Linked DNA regions of Homo sapiens. The protein of the gene in region 1 purifies or fractionates together with the protein of each later gene. This does not show direct contact. Each region holds a gene or a part of one and is shown on either strand. Other genes may lie near its edges.

Region 1 (4,639 bases):
CTTCCTGGAAGAGTTCAACACTGCCCTGAACCTCTTTGTCTTCCACAGACAATGCCTGCATTCAGGAAAAACTAAACACTACAAACAAAATCAGAAGGGAGAGCAAAAGAAAAAGGCCTACGGACCACCCAGTTATTAGAGTAATCAATGTGAACTAGAGTTAGTGCATTCAAAAAGACAGATGACAAGAGGAACAGTTTTACCTGAGAACTGAAATCTTAAGAGCTCCTAGTATGAATAAAAGAGTAACCAGCCGGACACAGTGGCTCATGCCTGTAATCCCAGCACTTTGGGAGGCCGATGTGGGCAGATCGCTTGAGGTCCAGAGTTTGAGGCCAGCCTGGCCAATGTGATGAAGCCCTGTCTCTACTAAAAAATACAAAAAATAGCCGGGTATGGTGGCGGGCGCCTGTAATCCCAGCTACTCTGGAGGCTGAGGCAGGAGAATCGCTTGAACCCAGGAGGCAGAGGTTGCAGTGAGTCGAGATCTCGCCACTGCACTCCAACCTGGGCAACAAGATCGAAACACCGTCTCAAAAAAAAAAAGGAGTAATCAGACCTAGAAGGAGGGCAGCGCCCTGAAAGCACAAAAGGGCGTGAAGCACAGAGGCAAGCACGTGCGATGGACAGGACAGGGCAAAGGGGCAAATGGACCCTCGATGAAGACCCTGATGTGAGGAGAGAGGCACAGAGGCACTGTCATCAATAAGCAGGATGAACACAAAGACAGACACAACTAAGCAAGTTATTATAAATCTGACGAAATCCAAACAGAGAGATCATCCGAGAAGGTGCCAGAGAAAAGACATCCATCTTCAAAGGATCTGCAATCTGCAAGTGGCAAGACTCCTAGTGAGCTTATTTTCGATCGTTCAGCATCTTCCAGAGTTTCTACAATGAGGACATGCTGCTTTTATCATCAGGAAACGAAAAGGTAAAACACCAGAGCTGTGGCGCGGAGTATGGCCAGGCTCACCTTGTCGTCTGCCTTTATGGAGCGCAGCCGCATGGTAAGCTGGAAGCGCAGGAAGTTGTTGGTGCCGATGGACTGTAGCTCCAGCAGCTTGCACAGGGCCACCAGCTGCGGCCGTGTCAGGTTGTCCAGGGTCAGCTCATCCTCAAATAATTTGGAAAAACGCATGATTTCCTCATTGCTGGGCCTCTCCCCTGTTTCCCGGATCTGCGGAAGTGGTCACAAGGGTCATCCCCGGGACACGCGCCCACCCGGCTCCCTCCCACGACCAACCACATTCCCAAAGGGTGCTGCCTCTCATCCTCAGGGACTCAAACCACTGACTACTTCTTCTTTTTTTTTTTTGTTTGAGACAGGGTCTCGCTCTGTTACCCAGGCTGGAATGCAGTGGTGTAATCTCGGTTCACTGCAACCTCCACCTCCTGGGTTCAAGGGATTCTCCTGCCTTAGCCTCCCGAGTAGCTGGGATTACAGGCTGCGCCACCACACCCAGCTAATTTTTGTATTTTAGTAGAGATGGGATTTCACTATGTTGGCCAGGCTGGTCTCAAATACCCGACCTCAAGTCACCTGCCCAGCTTGGCCTCAAACCACTGACTTCTGACTCCGGTGCTGGGCTAGCCTGGGGAAAGGTGGCGTCTGGCCTGTGGACCTCTCCTGCCTGAACCAGCAAAGCTGAGGCTGCTGTCTGCTGGGGGAGACGCCCGGGCCCACAGGCTGCTGCATGCAGGTCCTGTGATCCTCTCTCTGCCACAGAAGTGGCCGGGACCCTGCTGCTCTGGGGCAGGAAGAGGTGCACCTGTGTGCACCTACATCTCCCACGGATGACTGCCTGAGCCTTGGGGGAGGGGTGGCCATCTAGCTCTTTAGGGAGAGCTAGAGTCCCTTAGCGTGGATCACTCAGGGCCCTTTGGGTGATCCTCTGCAGTTCCTACCACCTGAGGGACAAGCCACCAGCTCAGTCTCTGCCAAGAGCTGGGCTAGGAGGGTACCTAGCAGAGGTGACAGATGAGGGAGGACGAGGCTGACTTGGTGCCCAACTCAAATCGTAACATGCAGGATGCCAGCTCTGAGACACAATTTCAGGTGTGCTCCTGGGGGCGGCCCTATGCAGCACACCCCCGTGCAGGTGACTGCAAGCACATCCTTCTTGGCAGCTGGGCGGCCCAGGAAAGGTTGGGACGGGCCCCTCCTGCTCTGCAAGGCACGATGTCCTGGGTGAGGCTCCCAAAGCATGGCTCCCCCTAAAACATCTTGCTGGAACCACCACCCACTCCCTGGGGGGCTCAGCAGCCCCATGGCTGTGTCGCCTCCTCCCGAGAGGCTTCTCCGTGGTTAGGCCTCAGCCTGGCAGTCTTTTCTGTCAAGGGCCAGACAGCAAGTATTTCTGGCTTTGCAGCCATGGAAACCACTCGCCTCTGTGCTGCAGCGGGAAAACCCCACAGACAACGCACACGCATGGCTGGAGTTTCTAGGCCCTGGTTTAAGCTCTTCCTGCACTTCAGACACATCCTTCTCACTCCAAAGTGGCACAAGTCCCTCAAGCCAACAACACCGGCCTCGTGAACCCCATCTAGTCCTCAGGGATCTCGGTCCGTGGCAGCTGCCGTCTCCCCATCCTCACCTCACTCACCACATGACCGCAGGAAACCTCAAGGGCCGCTCCTCCTCTCCAGCCCCCACTGCTCCCACAGTCCAGGCCTCTGACCAGCCCCTGGGACCTGGGATCTTCTTGACTGACTCCAGCCAGAGGGCAATGCCCAGCAGAGGAGCCCGGCCAAGCCACCCACACCTCACACCATCAGGGTCTCAGGCTCCTCATGGGTCAGATTCTACTGCTCCTGGACAGCTGCAGGGTGATGAGACACAGACGCCCATAATTCTGAAGGCTGACGAGGCGCAGCCACCACAGCTTAACTCACTGGGAGCTCGTGGGGGCAGACTCCTGACACTCCACTGGCCCCCGACTGAGCCTCCTGGGTAAACTTTCAAGCGCCAGCCAGCACCTGGGGGAGCTCCACTCTGCTGAGCACAGCGAAAGGGAAACAGAAAATCAGGGAAGGCTCCCTGGTGAGGTCACAGGGACTCAGACGTATCACAGCACCTTCTGGAAAAACACAGAGAAGTCTTTGGTGGCGCTGCCCTTGGCTGCCTTGTTCTTCAAGGCCATCTCCTCGATGGTGTCCTGGAGGAACTTGGCCAGCTCCAGCTTGACCCGAAGCTCCTTCTTCAGCCTCTCCTCCTGCAAGGGCAGAGAGGGCACTGCATTCCAACTGCTCAGACTGTGGTTCGGGCAAGGAAAACATCTCACGCCTGTGCCCGACCCCCACTCCCAGAAACATTTCACAACACACTGACTCTCATCTAAGTGCAATACATTCTCAAACTCTTTTATTTCATGGTTTTAAAAAGTACCCGTGTGGGCCGGGCACAGTGGCTCATGCCTGTAATCCCAGCACTTTGGGAGGCCAAGGTGGGTGGATCACCTGAGGTCAGGAGTTTGAGACCAGCCTGGCCAACACGGTGAAACCCCGTCTCTACTAAAAACACAAAAATTAGCCAGGCATGCACACCTGTAATCCCAGCTACTTGGGAGGCTGAGGCACAAGAATCGCTTGAACCCAGGAGGTGGAGGCTACAGTGAGCTGAGATTGCACCACTGCACTCTCCAGCCTGGGTGACAGAGCGAAACTCCGTCTCAAAAAAAAAACAAAAACAAAACAAAAACAAACAAACAAACAAACAAAAACAAACAAACTCGTGTGATTCCCTAAAGCAAGGATCGGCACACTTTCCGTAATGGGCTAGACAGGAAGGCGTCTGGCCTTCATGGCTGTGTGGTCTAAAACAAATGCTTAACTCTGCTGGTGCCTCACAGACAAGACACATGACTGGGCATCGCAGGTCCCCACAGGGCTCTGCTGAGAACAGGCAGGGTCCTGATCTGGCCTGTGGGCTGCAGCTGGCTGACCCTGCCCTAGAAGGACCTCATGACTCCCCTATAGCACCGGTAGGGGAGTGTTCCTGGTCTAGAAAACCTGTATTTTAAAATACATTGAGCTGGAAGCAGTGGCTCACACCCATAATAACACTTTGGGAGGTCATGGCAAGAGGATTACTTGTGCCCAGGAGTTTGAGACCAGCCTGGGCAACATAGCAGATCTTGTCTATAAAAAACAAAAAAAAATTAGTCAGATGTGGTGGCTTAGCCTGTAGTCCCAGCTATTCGGGAGCTAAGACAAGAGGATCACTTAAGTCCAGGAACTTGAGGCTGCAGTGAGCCGTGATCGCACCACTGCACTCCAGCCTGGGTGACAGGGCGAGACCTGTGTATGGTGGCACACATGCCTATAATCCCAGCTACTTGGGAGGCTGAGGCAGGAGATTCGCTTGAACCCGGGAGGCAGAGGTTGTATGCAGTGAGACAAGATCGCACTGCTGCACTCCAGCCTGGGTGACAGAGCGAGACCCTGTTTCAAAAATAAATAAATAAATAAATAAATAACGAAATAAAGAGAAACAAATCCAAAACCCAGCATCCACTAAATAATTATTGCACAGCACAAGGACAATATGAAGATACATAAAGTCTCAAAAATATCTAGCACCTGAAAAGTCACAAACAAGGAAGCCATCACAATGAATTTCAGACTCATTCTAAAACAA
Region 2 (4,615 bases), on another chromosome or scaffold:
AAAGTGCACAAAAAAAGAAGGACATCGGCCGGGCGTGGTGGCTCATGCCTGTAATCCCAGCACTTTGGGAGGCTGAGGCGGGCGGATCACTTGAGGTTGGGAGTTTGAGACCAGCCTGACCAACATGGAGAAACCCCGTCTCTACTAAAAATACAAAATTAGCCAGTTGTGTTGGTGGGCGCCGTAATCCCAGCTACTTGGGAGGCTGAGGCAAGAGAATCACTTGAACCTGGGAGGCAGAGGTTGCGGTGAGCTGAGATCGTGCCATTGCACTACAGCCTGGGTAACAAGAGTGAAACTCCATCTCCAAAAAAAAAAAAAAAAAATGGCATCTACTACTTCTGAATTGTCATAATTTTTTTCTTATAAATGTAGATTCCTATTTAATGGAGGTATAGTCTGAATAATCTTTCTTACTAGTAACTTTAAAAAAAGAAAGTCTTAAACTTACAGAAAAGTTGCAAATACAGTATAAAGAATTTTTCTGTGGCCAGGCGCGGTGGCTCACGCCTATAATCCCAGCACTTTGGGAGGCTGAGGCAGGCAGATCACAAGGTCAGGAGATCGAGACCATCCTGGCTAACATGGTGAAACCCCATCTCTACTAAAAATACAAAAAATTAGCCAGGCGTGGTGGCATACGCCTGTAGTCCCAGCTATTCAGGAGGCTGAGGCAGGAGAATCACTTGAACCTGGGAGGTGGAGGTTGCATTGAGCCGAGATCGCGCCACTGCACTCCAGCCTGGGCGACAGAGTGAGACTCCGTCTCAAAAATAAAAAAGAAAAAAATTTTTTGTCCCTGAATTATGTGAGAATAAGTGGCTGACATGATGCCACATCACCCCCAAATATTTGAATATGTCTTTCCTACAAACAAGGACATTCTTCTACATAACTACAAAACAACCATAAAAAATCAGGAAATTAACACTGATGTGTCATACTGTCTAATCCTCAGGTCCCATTCAACTTTTGCCAGTGGTCCTTCATAGCAGAAGGATCCAGTTCTGAATCATATGTTGATTTAATTGTCATGTCAGGACTAGTTCCTTAATCTTTCTTTGACTTTCGTGACTTTGACATGGTTCTTTTGTGTATTGTCCCTCAATTTGGGTCTGTGTGGTGCTTCCTCATGATTAGCTTTGGGTTATGCATCTCTGGCAGGAATGTCACAGAAGGGATGCTCTGTTCTTATTGTATCCTATCAAGTGGTGCATGGTTTTGATTTGTCTCATTACTGATGATATCAGCTTTGCTTACTGGATGACGATGATGTCTGCCACTGTTCTTCACTGTAAAGTTACTCTTTTCCCCTTTGTAATTAATAAGTACCTTATGTGGGGGGGGGTGGCAGGTAACTTTGAGACCTTCATCAGACTTTCAATTCATTATTTTTAAATCAGTATGGACTCAGGAATTCCTATGTTACTGAATGGACTATAATATGTTACTATCATCTATTTGATGTTCACATGATCCCAGGAGTGTCCCAGTCCCTTCAGGCTAGCTTCTGTGTGGTTTTCTTTGATGTGTCCCCATTATTCTTTGAGCACTTTCTCACTTTCTGGCACAATAAAATATTCTAGGCTCATCTTATGCTTTTCCCTGCCCCAGTCCTAGAATCACCCACATCTCCAAGGAGCCCTTTTTTGAAATGGAGAATGATATTTTGAAGTGGAGGATGATATTTTGAAATGGAGATATGTGCGTTGGGAGTGGTCATTATTCCTGGGTATCACTGCTCCCATACCCTCTTAGTGGAGGAGCTGGGAAATATATGTGCATATACGTACATATATGTTATTTCTAAATCTTTGTACAGATGTATGTATGAAAACCATGGGATCGCACTGATAGCTCCAATTCCAGTTCAGCCACCACGGGGTTCATTCTCATTTCCTTCCTTTCCATATTTGTAATTCCCTTCTCCAACTGGCTCCATTCTCCTTAATATATTGACTTATTTAATCAGTTCCGCTGTATGTGACCAATTTCCTATGGCTGCCACCCCTCATGCATCATGGATGCTCCCCTCACCTTACCTGGGCTCTGGTACCCCACACCAGGTCCCCCTCTGCAGGCTCACCCTCTTCATTGTGCTCAAGCTGTGACATGCTCTGCCATCACTCTTGCAGCCTCTCTGCAAGGATGTCCTCCTCACCGTGCTTGGATGCCAGCACCCTACTCTAGGTTACCTTACTTGCTCCCACCTAATGATATTTGGGCTGAATGGTTGGGAAAGGGTCTGAAAAAGGGTTCTAATATATTGTTTAAAAAACTATTTTTTTATAGAGATGGGGTCTCCCTGTGTTGCCCAGGTTTTTCGTGAACTCCTGGGCTCAAAGGATCTTCCTGCCTCAGCCTCCTAAAGTTCTGATTACAGGTGTGAGCCGCCGTGCCTGGCCTTTTTTTTTTTTTTTGAGACAGAGTCTCACTCTTGTTGCCCGGCCTGGAGTAGAGTGGTCCGATCTTGGCTCATTGCATCTTCTGCCTCTGGGTTCAGGCGATTCTCCTGCCTCAGCCTCCTGAACAGCTGGGATTACAGGCACCCGCCATCACATCTGGCTAATTTTTGTATTTTTAGTAGAGACGGGGTTTCACCATGTTGGCCAGTCTGGTCTCAAACTCCTGACCTCAGGTGATCTGCCTGCCTCGGCCTCCCAAAGTGCTGGGATTACAGGTGTGAGCCACCATGCCAGGCCCTAACTTTTAAAATATAGATACAAGCTTGTTGTTAAGCTTACGCCTAGCAACTACTTTTCTCTAGATTAAATAAACCCAGTTAAAAATTCTTGGCTGGGCACAGTGGCTCACACCTGTAATCCTTGCACTTTGGGAGATCGAGGCAGGAGGATCGCTTGAGGCCAAGACTTTGAGACCAGCCTGGGAAACATAGTGAGTCCCCATCTCTACAAAACCCAAAAAATTAGCTGGGCATGGTGGCATGCACTAGTAGTTCCAGCTACTCAGAAGACTGAGGTGGGAGGATTGCTTCAGCCCAGGAAGTCGAGGCTGCAGTGAGCTGTGGTGACACCACTGCACTACAGCCTGATTGACTTTGGTTTGCTTAGGTGTCCTTATATATACAAACTCCCCTGCCACTACCCTCTTTCTTGCTCATTAACTTCTGTTGATGGCCAGTCCCTTTAACCTGTTCACTTGATTCTATTCCTTCTATTTCTTCAAGGAACTGCCTTATCACTTGGCTTTCTCCCTCATTTCCTGAGCCTTTTCTCAACTTCACTTTTCCCTCAAGTTATAAACATATTCAAGGTTCTTCCATCTTAAAATGAAAAATAGGCCGGGCAGGGTGGCTTACGCCTGTAATCCCAGTAGTTTGGGAGGCCGAGGCGGGTGGATCACTTGAGGCCAGGAGTTCGAGACCAGCCTGGGCAATATGGTGAAACCCCGTCTCTACTAAAACTACAAAAAGTAGCCGGGCGTGGTGGTGCGTGCCTGTAATCCCAGCTACTCGGGAGGCTGAGGCACGAGAATCGCTTGAGCCTGGGAGGCAGAGGTTGCAGTGAGCTGAGATAGACTCCAGCCTGGACAACAGAGCGAGACTCTGTCTCAAAAACACAAAAATTAGCCGGGTGTAGTGGCATGTGCCTGTAGTCCCAACTACTCAGGAGGTTGAGGCAGGAGAATGGCTTGAACCCGGGAGGTGGAGGCTGCAGTGAGCTGAGATCGCACCACTGCATTCCAGCCTGGGTGACAGAGTGAGGCTCTGAGTCAAAAAAAAAAAAAAAGATAAGTAAAAAATCCTCTTTCCTTATAACACCTCACACTTTCTTCCTTACTTCATAGCTCACTTTCTGAAAAGAACCTAGAAAATCACCTGCTCTCATTGCCTCTTTATGCTAACTTCCTGTTAATTAAACATTTCCCGGTCGGCTGTGTTCCGGCTTCTGCTCCTCCACGCCATTGAATCTGCTCTTGCCAAGCTCGCCATTGGCCCCTTTACTGCACAGTTGAATGGATACTTTTCAGGGCTGACCTGACCCCTTTGTGGCTTCTTATATCGTCCAGCCCATCCTTGGGCTTTGGTGACATTTCCTTCTGCTTCTCTGGCTGCTCTTTTGTAGTCCCCTTTGTAGGTTCCTCTTTTTCTGTTGATCCCTTAAATGTAGGTTATCCCCAGGGTTTTGTCTTCTGCCCTTTCAAAAACTGATTATTTTTTGAATTTATTTTATTTTATTTTGTTTATTTATTTTTTTTGAGCTGTAGTTTCGCTCTTGTTGCCCAGGCTGGAGTGCAATGGCGCTATCTCAGCTCACTGCATCCTCCATCTCCCGGGTTCAAGGGATTCTCCTGCCTCAGCCTCCCATGTAGCTGGGATAACAGGCACACACCACCACGCCCGGCTAATTTTTTGTATCTTTAGTAGAGACGGGGTTTCACCATGTTGGCCGGGCTGGTCTCGAACTTCTGACCTCAGGTGATCCACTCGCCTCGGCCTCCCAAAGTGCTGGGATTACAGACGTGAGCCACTGCGCCCGGCCTTTTGAATTTTATAATTTGTTCATATTAATTAAATTTTAAGGCATTTTAAAATTTAACAATAAAATTGTTAAATCTTTTAAAATTATTTATTTAGTTTTTGAGACAGGGTCTC
Region 3 (4,615 bases), on another chromosome or scaffold:
GGGCTGGGGGCTGGCCTGGAGAAGCCAGACCCCAGGGAGACGGGGAAGGGACTCATGGGCTGGTGTGAGGCAGGCGGGTGGCAAGGGCGAGAGTAGCAGAGAAGCAGTGCAGCCCAAAGCCCACCAGGGCACCTGCCGTCTGCAGCCTCCAGGAGTTCACACAGAGATCTGGGATTGCTGGGGCAGGCTGTAGCCCACGGATGTCGCCTCCTGAGTTTCTGGGCAAGTTCTGCGGGGCAAGCTGGTGGGGAAGGTGGGGTGGATCTCATGACTTGCTAGCTCCTTGGCATTGCAGATGTCACTGTGCCTGTACCCAGACTAGCCCTCATCCTTTCTGTCCATTTCTCTGTAGATTGACCTGCGTTACGAAGCTCAGAATCTAGAACACTTCCAGGTCAACTTCCGGAATGTGAAAGCCGTCAAGTTCCCCACCCCTCTGCGCCCCTTTGTCACCAGAGAAGTCTTGGTGGAAACGTATGAAGTAAGAGTGATGGCTTTGCCTGGCCATACCTTTCACTTGCCACTCGCAGTGGGCCCGTCTCCAGCCCACAGAAAGGCTTCAGTCTGGAGAGAGGATGGGATTTGTGTCTGTAAAACTGTGAGGAGCTGGGATGTGTTGGCCTCGGCGGGAGGCAGTGTTGGAGTGAGGTAGCTGAGAACACTGGGTGTGGCCCGATCCCCTAGATTTGAAAATCTGCTCTGCCATTTTATTAGTTGGTGACCTGCCTTAGAGGATTGTCTCAGGAGTAAATGACACACTGAATGCAAAACAAGGAGTTGGGCACAGAGAAAGTGCTGAACAACCTTGTGTCATCTCACTTGCCCTAGCTATCCTCTACTCTAGTTCAGCCTTCTCTCTCTTTTTTTTTTTTTTTTTTTTTTTTTTTTGAGATAGAGTCTCACTCTGTTGCCCAGGCTGGAGTGCAGTGGCATGATCTCAGCTCACTGCCACCTCCGCCTTCCAGGTTCAAGTGATTCTCGTGCCTCAGCCTCCCAAGTAGCTGCGATTACAGGTGTGTGCCACCACACCTGGCTAATTTTTGTATTTTTTAGTAGAGATGGAGTTTTGCCGTGTTGGCCAGGCTGGTCTGGAACTCCTGACCTCAAGTGATCTGCCTGCCTTGGCCTCCCAAAGTGCTGGGATTACAGGCATGAGCCACTGCACCCAGCCCAGCCTCCTCTTTACAGATGGTGATATGAGATTCAGGGAATCTCATGAATGTGACATGAACCACACAGTGTTTCTAGCTGTGTGAACTTGAGCAAGTTGCTTAACCTCTCTGGGCTTTGGTTCTTTTATTTGTTAATTAGGGATAACAAGATCTATCTCCATGGGTTGTTTTGACAATTTTTTTTTTTTTGAGACAAGGTCTTGCTCTGTTGCCCAGGCTGTGGTACAGTGGCATGATCTCGGCTCACTGCAGCCTCCACCTCCTGGGCTCAAGTGATCATTCCACCTCAGCCTCCCAAGTAGCTGGGACCATAGGCACGAGCCACCATCCCCATGTCCGACTAATTTTTGTATTTTTCTGTAGAGCCTGGGTTTCTCCCTGTTGCCCAGGCTGGTCTCAAACTCCCAAGTTCAAGTGATCCTCCTGCTTTGGTTTCCAAAAGTGCTAGGATTATACGTGTTAGCCACCACACCTGGGTAATTTTTTTTTTTTTTTGTAGAGATGGGGGTCTCCTTACGTTGCCCAGACCCCTATTGGCTGATTCTTGCCCAGAAACCAGCTCTCTGGTGCCCACCCCTATCTTTTCAGGACATCACATCTCTTATCTTCAGTAGCAGAGTTGATAGGTTTCCTTTTCAATAAACCTATGTGACTTGTCATCCTTCTGATAGCTGTTATAGAAGGGAATGTAAATAAGTTCAAATCAATGTGTGGATGACAGATTTTTGTTTTGTTTTGTTTGAGACAGAGTCTCTGTCACTCAGGCTAGAGTGCAGTGGCGCAATCTCAGCTCACTGAAGCCTTGACTTTCCGAGTTGAGGTGGTTCTCCCTCATGTTGTCCAGGCTGGTCTTGAACCCCTGGGCTCAAGCAATCCTCCCAAGGTGCTAGGATTACAGGTGTGAGCCACTGCACATGGCTGAATGACAGATGGGTTCTAGGAAAGGAAATACTCTTTGGGTTACTTCCCAATAAGTGAGAAGACAGCGCTGTGGTGCCACGTGGGAGGAGGAGCCAGCATCACAGGCTGGCTGGGATTAAGCTGTTCTCTCCCTGGTCTTTCTGAAGGAGAGTGTGCCTGTGTCCAGTTACCAGCAGGCAGGAATTCCCGTGGACTTGAAAAGGAAGATTGCACGGCTGGGGATCAACATGCTCCTGAAGATGGTGAGCTCATGGCTGGAGCGGGCTCAGGCCCAGCATGTGGTCAGCTTGCAGATGGGGAGTGGGCTGGGACTCTGGCTATCTGGGTGGGAAGGAGAGCGAAGCAGCAAGCCGCCAGGTTGAGAAAGTCTGGTCTAGAAAGAGTGGAGGCTACCATAAATGGCCATGGTGTCTGTGAAGCTCTTTTATTTTTTTTTTTTTGAGATGGAGTCTTGCTCTGTCGCCCAGGCTGGAGTGCGGTGGCGTGATCTCGGCTCACTGCAAGCTCTGCCTCCTGGGTTCACGCCATTCTCCTGCCTCAGCCTCCCAAGTAGCTGGGACTACAGGCGCCCGCCACCACGCCTGGCTAATTTTTTGTATTTTTTTAAGTAGAGATGGGGTTTCATCATGTTAGCCAGGATGGTGTCGATCTCCTGACCTCATGATCCACCCGCCTTGGCCTCCCAAAGTGCTGGGATTACAGGTGTGAACCACCACACCCGGCCTTTTTTTTCCTTTTTTAAGATAGGGTCTCACTCTGTTGCCGAGGTTGGAGTGCAGTGGCAAAATCTCCATGAACTACAGCCTCAACCTCTTGGGCTCAAGTGATCCTGCCTCCTCACTCCTCAGCCTCCTGAGTAGCTGGGACTACAAACATGAGCCACCAAGCCTGGCTAATTTAAAAAATTGTTTTGTAGGGACTTACTATGTTGTCCAGGGCAGTCTTGAACTCCTGGGATCAAGCGATCCTCCCACCTTGGCCTCCCAAAGTGTTGGGATTACAGGCATGAACCACCATGCCCGGCCTCTTAAGTGCTTTGTCAGTGGCTCATGCTCTGTGTGCTGTGAGAAGAAGGGTGACCATGACCCAGTTCTGCCAGCATTGCCTGTAGTTTAGCAAACAGCTGAGACAATATCTTATTTTAAATGCTGCTTTGCTCATTTGTTCAGCAAATGTTTATTGAGCACCTGCTAGGTGCCAGGCACTGAATTAAGGGCTGGGGTTACAGCAGTGAGCAAAACAGACACAATTACAATGCTCGTGACATACTATTCCTTGGGAAGATAGGTGACGACTAAGTAAATGATTTATAGGGATAGGTACGGGGTACCAAAAGGTCATTTCGGAGGAGACTGTGCTAACCCAGGGATTCACTCAGGAAGTGGCTCCATCTCAGCTGCAGTGTGAAGGTCTAGGTGTCACTACATAAGGACAGGTGGCAGGGAGTTGTCTAGAGAGAATAGCCTTTGCTGAGGCCTGGGGTGAGCTACTGCATGGTGCTCTTGGAGAGACGAAAGCACTTAGTATGGCTTGGAAGAGAGTTTGAAGGAGGGGGCAGTGATTGCTGAGGCTGAGGAGGTGAGAGGAGGCTGAGGAGGTGAGAGGGGCCTGACCACAAAGGGTCTAGTAAATCTGTGAAAGAGTTTGGACTTTAATCCAAGGGCAGATAAGTTCATTTTGAAGATTTTTGCCCTTAACTTTAAAAAATTGAATTCCAATAATATTTAAATATAAAGTGCTCAGATCTTAAATGATGCTTAGTGAATTTTTAAAAAGCATCCCAGTGCCCAGATTAAAACATAGGAGAGTTTTGGCTGGGTGCAGTGGCTCACACCTATAATCCCAGCACTTCAGGAGGCTGAGGCGGGGAGATTGCTTGAGCCCAGGGGTTTGAGACCAGCCTGAGCAAGATGCCAAAACCCTGTCACTACAAAAAAAAAAAAAAAAAAATACAAAAATTGGCCACGTTTGGTGGCAGCATGCCTTTAGTCCCAGCTACCTGGGAGGCTGAGGTGGGATCACCTGAGCCCAGGAGATGGAGGTTGTAGTGAGCTAAAATCATGCCACTGCACTCCAACCTCAGATACAATGAGACTCTGTCTCAAAAAAAAAAAAAAAAAAAAAAAGCCAGGCGCAGTGGCTCATGCCTGTAATCCCAGCACTTTGGGAGGCCGAGGCAGGTGGATCACGAGGTCAGGAGATCGAGACCATCCTGGCCAACATGGTGAAACCCTGTCTCTACTAAAATACAAAAAATTAGCCAGACGTGGTGGTGCATGCCTGTAGTCCCAGCTACTCGGAATTGCTTGAACCCAGGAGGCAGAGATTGCAGTGAGCCGAGATCACAGCACTGCACTCCAGCCTGGCGACAGAGCGAGACTCCGTCTAAACAAACAAACAAACAAACAAACATAAAGAGACATAGGAGGTTTTTATGCTGAGGAATGCCCTAATGTCACAACCTCATGTCCACTGTGTGGAGTTGGAGTGGGAGGGTGAGACGAGAGGCAGGGGAGTCAGAA
Region 4 (4,615 bases), on another chromosome or scaffold:
ATCACGAGGCCAGGAGATTGAGACCATCCTGGCTAACACGGTGAAACCCCATCTCTACTAAAAATACAAAAAATTAGCCAGGCATGGTGGTGGGCGCCTATAGTCCCAGCTACTCGGGAGACTGAGCAGAAGAATGGCGTGAACCTGGGTGGCAGAGCTTGCGGTGAGCCAAGATCGCATCACTGCACTCCAGCCTGGGTGACAGAGTGAGACTCCGTCTCAAAACAAACAAACAAACAAATAAACAAACAAACAAAACAGCCAGGTGTGGTGGCGGGTGCCTATAGTCCCAGTTACTCAGGAGGCCGAGGTGAGAGAATAACATGAATCTGGGAGGCAGAGGTTGCAGTGAGCCGAGATCACAACACTGCATTCCAGCCTGGGCGACAAAGTGAGACTGTCTCAAAAAACAAAAACAAAAACAAGCCAGGCGCAGTGGCTCATGCCTGTAATCCCAGCACTTTGGGAGGCAGAGGCAAGTGGATCACGAGGTCAGGAGATCGAGACCATCCTGGCTAACATGGTGAAACCCTGTCTCTACTAAAAATACAAAAAAATTACGTTGGTGGCACGTGCCTGTAGTCCCAGCTACTCAGGAGGCTGAGGCAGGAGAATTGCTTGAACCCAGGAGGCGGAGGTTGCAGTGAGCCGAGATCGCGCCACTGCACTCCAGCCTGGGCGACAGAGTGACACTCCGTCTCAAAAAAAAGAAAAGAAAAGAAAAGAAAAGAAAAAAAACAGCCAGGCGTGGTGGTACGTGCCTGCAGTCCCAGCTACTCAGGAGGCTGAAGTAGCAAGATTGCTTGAGCCTGGAAGTAGAGGCTGCAGTGAGCTGTGATAATGCCACTCTACTCCAGCCTGGGTGACAGAGTAAGACCCTGCCTCAAAAATAATAAATAAGTATAATGAAGAAAGGTGGCCAGGCGTGGTGGCTCACGCCTGTAATCCTAGCACTTTGGGAGGCCGAGGCGAGTGGATCATGAGATCAGGAGTTCAAGACCAGCCTGGCCAACATGGTGAAACCCCATCTCTACTAAAAATAAAAAAAATTAGCAGGGTGTGGTGGTGCATGCCTGTAGTCCCACCTACTCGGGGGTCTGAGGCAGGAGAATCGCTTGAACCCAGGATGCAGAGGTTGCAGTGAGCCGAGATCATGCCCATTGCACTCCAGCCTGGGCAACAGAGTAAGACTCCGTCACAAGAAAAAAAAAAGAAAGGCAAAAGAACTAGATTAGCTGAAACAATTTTGAAAAAGAAGTGAGAGAAATCAATCTATCCGATTTTGAGACTTCTTATGAGCTACAATAATAAAAACTCTCGGTATTGGTGATGGGATAGACACAAAGATCAATGGAATGCAACAGAGAATCAGAAACAGAGTCACACAAGTACAGCCAAGTGATTTCTGACGAAAGTGCAAAAGCAATTCAATGGAAGAAAAACAGTCTTCTCAAACAAACGGTGCTGGTTAGATATTCATAAGCAAAAACCCCCCACAAAAACCAAAAAACACTCAAACTTTAAACCACATACAGAAATTAACTCCAAATGGATATACCTAATGTAAATGACGAGTTAATGGGTGCAGCACACCAACATGGCACATGTATACATATGTAACAAACCTGCATGTTGTGCACATGTACCCCAGAACTTAAAGCATAATAATAAAAAAAAACATTAAAACTTTTAGAATATCTATTTGATCTTGAGTCTTTAGGACTCAAAAAAAGCTGGCCACAAGACTAAATTTATATCAATTACATTAAAATTAAAAACTGTTCATCAAAAAGTACCATAAAGTGAAAACATAAAAAAAAAAAGAAAAAAGAAATTAAGTCTAAATGAATCATAGATTTAAATGTAAAATTTAAAAATTTTATAAAAGTGGCCAGGCGCAGTGGCTCACGCCTGTAATCCTGGCACTTCAGGAAGCCAAGGTGGGAGGATTGCTTGACCCCAGGAGTTTGAGACCAGTCTGGGCAACATGGCAAAACCCGTCCCTACAAAAAATACAAAAATTAGGCCAGGCACGGTGGCTCACGCCTGTAATCCCAGCACTTTGGGAGGCCGAGGCGGGGGGGATCACGAGGTCAGGAGATCGAGACCATCCTGGGTAACACAGTGAAACCCCGTCTCTACTAAAAAATACAAAAAAAAAAAATTAGCCGGGCATGGTGGCGGGCACCTGTAGTCCCAGCTACTCAGGAGGCTGAGGTGGGAGAATGGCATGAACCCGGAAGGCGGAGGTTGCAGTGAGCTGAGATCGTGCCACTGCACTCCAGCACTCCAGCCTGGGCGACAGAGCGAGACTCCGTCTCAAAAAACCAAAAAACAAAAAATACAAAAATTAGCCAGGCATGGTGCAGACTCCGGTACTCTTAGCTACTCAGGAGGCTGAGGTGTGAGGATCACCGGATCACCTGAGCCCAGGAGGTTGAGGCTGCGGTGAGCTGTGATCATGCCACTGCACTCCAGCCTGGGGTGACAGAGTAAGACCGTGTCTCCAAAAAAAAAAAAAAAAAAATTTAGAAAAATACATATGATAAAATCTTCAGGAATTTGGGCTAGGCAAAGAGTTCTTCAACTCAACACCAAAAGCAATCTAACAAAAGATAAAATTGGTAAACCAGACCTCATCAAAATTATAAACTTTTGCTTTGCAAAAGACCCCGTTAAGAAGATGAAAAGGGGCTGAGCGCGGTGGCTCACGCCTGTAATCCCAGCACTTTGGGAGGCCAAGGGGGTGTCGATCACGAGGTCAGGAGATCCAGACCATCCTGGCTAACACAGTAAAAGCCCGTCTCTACTAAAAATACAAAAGAATTAGCCGGGCGTGGTGGCACGCGGCTGTAGTCCCAGCTACTTGGGAGGCTGAGAAAGGCTTGAACCGGGGAGGTGGAGGTTGCAGTGAGCCAAGATTGCACCACTGCACTCCAGCCTGGGCAACAGAGCAAGACTCCGTCTCAAACAAACAAACAAACAAAAAGATGAAAAGGGCTAGGAGCAGTGGCTCACGCCTGTAATCCCAGCACTCTGGGAGGCTGAGGTGGACAGATCGCGAGGTCAGGAGTTCGAGACCAGCCTGACCAACACGGTGAAACCCCGTCTCTACTAAAAATACAAAAATTAGCCAGGTGTGGTGGCAAGCGCCTGTAATCCCAGCTACTCAGGAGGCTGAGGCGGAAGAATCGCTTGAACCTGGGAGGCAGAGGTTGTAGAGATTACGCCACTGCACTCCAGCCTGGGGGACAGAACGAGACTCCATCTCAAAAACAAAACAAACAAACAAACAAAAAAAAAACCAAGATGAAAAGACATGCTGCTGACTAGGAGAAAATATCTGCAAACTACATATCCAACAAAGCAGTGGTATCTAGAATACATTAGGAATTCTCAAAGCTCAACAGTTAACAAAAACCGAACAATCTAATTACGAAATGAACAAAAGATATGAACAGACATTTCACCCGAGAGTATACAGGGGCCAGGCATGGTGGCTCATGCCTGAAATCCTAGCCTTTGGGAGGCTAAGACAGGAGGATCACTTGATCCCAGGAGTTCAAGACCAGCCTGGGCAACATAGCAAGATCCCATCTCTTCCAAAAAAAGAGAGAATAGACAGATGGCAAATAAGCACATGAAAAGATGTTCAACATCATTAGCCATCAGAAAAATGCAAATTACAACCACAAAGAGACATTACTACACATTTATTGGAATGGCTATAATAAAAAAAGTAACATCACCAAATGCTGGCAAGTATGTGGAGAAACAAGACCATACAGTGCCGGTGGGAATGTAAAATAGTACAATCACTCTGGAAAACAGTTTGGCTATTTGTTTAATAACTAAGCACGCACTACGACTTAGTGATTGTATTCCTGGGCATTTATCTTGGAGAAATGTCAATTTATGTTCAAATAAAAATCTGTACATGAAGGTTTGTAGCAGCTTTATTTGTAATAGCCAAAGAATGGAAACAGTAAAGATGTCTTTTAATGGATGAATAAACCAAATGTGGTACATCCATAGCCCAATAGCCCGGCTTCAATAAAAAGGAATGAAGTACCTTTTTTTTTTTTTTTTTGAGACAGGGTCTCACTCTGTCACTCATGCTGGAGTGCAGTGGCGCGATCTCGGCTCACCGCAGCCACCACAGCCTAGGCTCAAGCGATCCTCCCACCTCAGCTTCCTGAGTAGCTGGGATTACAGGAACACACCACTGCGCCTGGCTAATTTTTTTTTTTTTTTTTTTTTGTAGAGACGAGGTCTCACTATGTTCCTCAGACTCGAACTCCTGGGGCTCAAGCGATCTGCCTGCCTCAGCCTCCCAAAGTTGCTAGGATTACAGGCGTAAGCCACTGCGCCTGGCCAAGGAATGAACTACCCATAACACGCAACAACCTGGATGATTCTCCAGGGAATTAAGCTGACTGGAAAAAACCAATCCCAAAAGGCTCTATGAATCCTTTTATTTGGCATTCTTGACATGCCAAAATTAGGGAAATGAAGAACAGATTAGTGGTTACCAGGAGTTGAAGGACTGGGAATGGGAGGAATGTGGGTGTGGCTATAAAAAAGCAATGGAAGGGATCCTTGTGATGACGGGAAT

The links. The genes of interacting proteins can lie anywhere in the genome.
Region 2: the proteins of LETM1 (region 1) and ACOT9 fractionate together in Homo sapiens (co-fractionation; one large-scale study listed by BioGRID). This does not show direct contact.
Region 3: the proteins of LETM1 (region 1) and ADCK2 purify together in Homo sapiens (affinity purification with mass spectrometry; one large-scale study listed by BioGRID and IntAct). This does not show direct contact.
Region 4: the proteins of LETM1 (region 1) and OGDH fractionate together in Homo sapiens (co-fractionation; one large-scale study listed by BioGRID). This does not show direct contact.

Annotation. Positions count from the first base shown.
Region 1 is NC_000004.12:1,831,768-1,836,406, forward strand, and holds part of LETM1 (mitochondrial proton/calcium exchanger protein precursor), read right to left. Parts: intron 3,216-4,639; coding exon 3,078-3,215; intron 1,181-3,077; coding exon 977-1,180; intron 1-976. UniProt on the Homo sapiens protein: Plays an important role in maintenance of mitochondrial morphology and in mediating either calcium or potassium/proton antiport. Mediates proton-dependent calcium efflux from mitochondrion.
Region 2 is NC_000023.11:23,725,804-23,730,418, reverse strand, and holds part of ACOT9 (acyl-coenzyme A thioesterase 9, mitochondrial isoform a precursor), read left to right. Parts: intron 1-4,615. UniProt on the Homo sapiens protein: Mitochondrial acyl-CoA thioesterase. Catalyzes the hydrolysis of acyl-CoAs into free fatty acids and coenzyme A (CoA), regulating their respective intracellular levels. Regulates both mitochondrial lipid and amino acid metabolism.
Region 3 is NC_000007.14:140,678,803-140,683,417, forward strand, and holds part of ADCK2 (uncharacterized aarF domain-containing protein kinase 2), read left to right. Parts: intron 1-352; coding exon 353-481; intron 482-2,239; coding exon 2,240-2,335; intron 2,336-4,615. UniProt on the Homo sapiens protein: The function of this protein is not yet clear. It is not known if it has protein kinase activity and what type of substrate it would phosphorylate (Ser, Thr or Tyr).
Region 4 is NC_000007.14:44,608,985-44,613,599, reverse strand, and holds part of OGDH (2-oxoglutarate dehydrogenase complex component E1 isoform 1 precursor), read right to left. Parts: intron 1-4,615. UniProt on the Homo sapiens protein: 2-oxoglutarate dehydrogenase (E1o) component of the 2-oxoglutarate dehydrogenase complex (OGDHC). Participates in the first step, rate limiting for the overall conversion of 2-oxoglutarate to succinyl-CoA and CO(2) catalyzed by the whole OGDHC.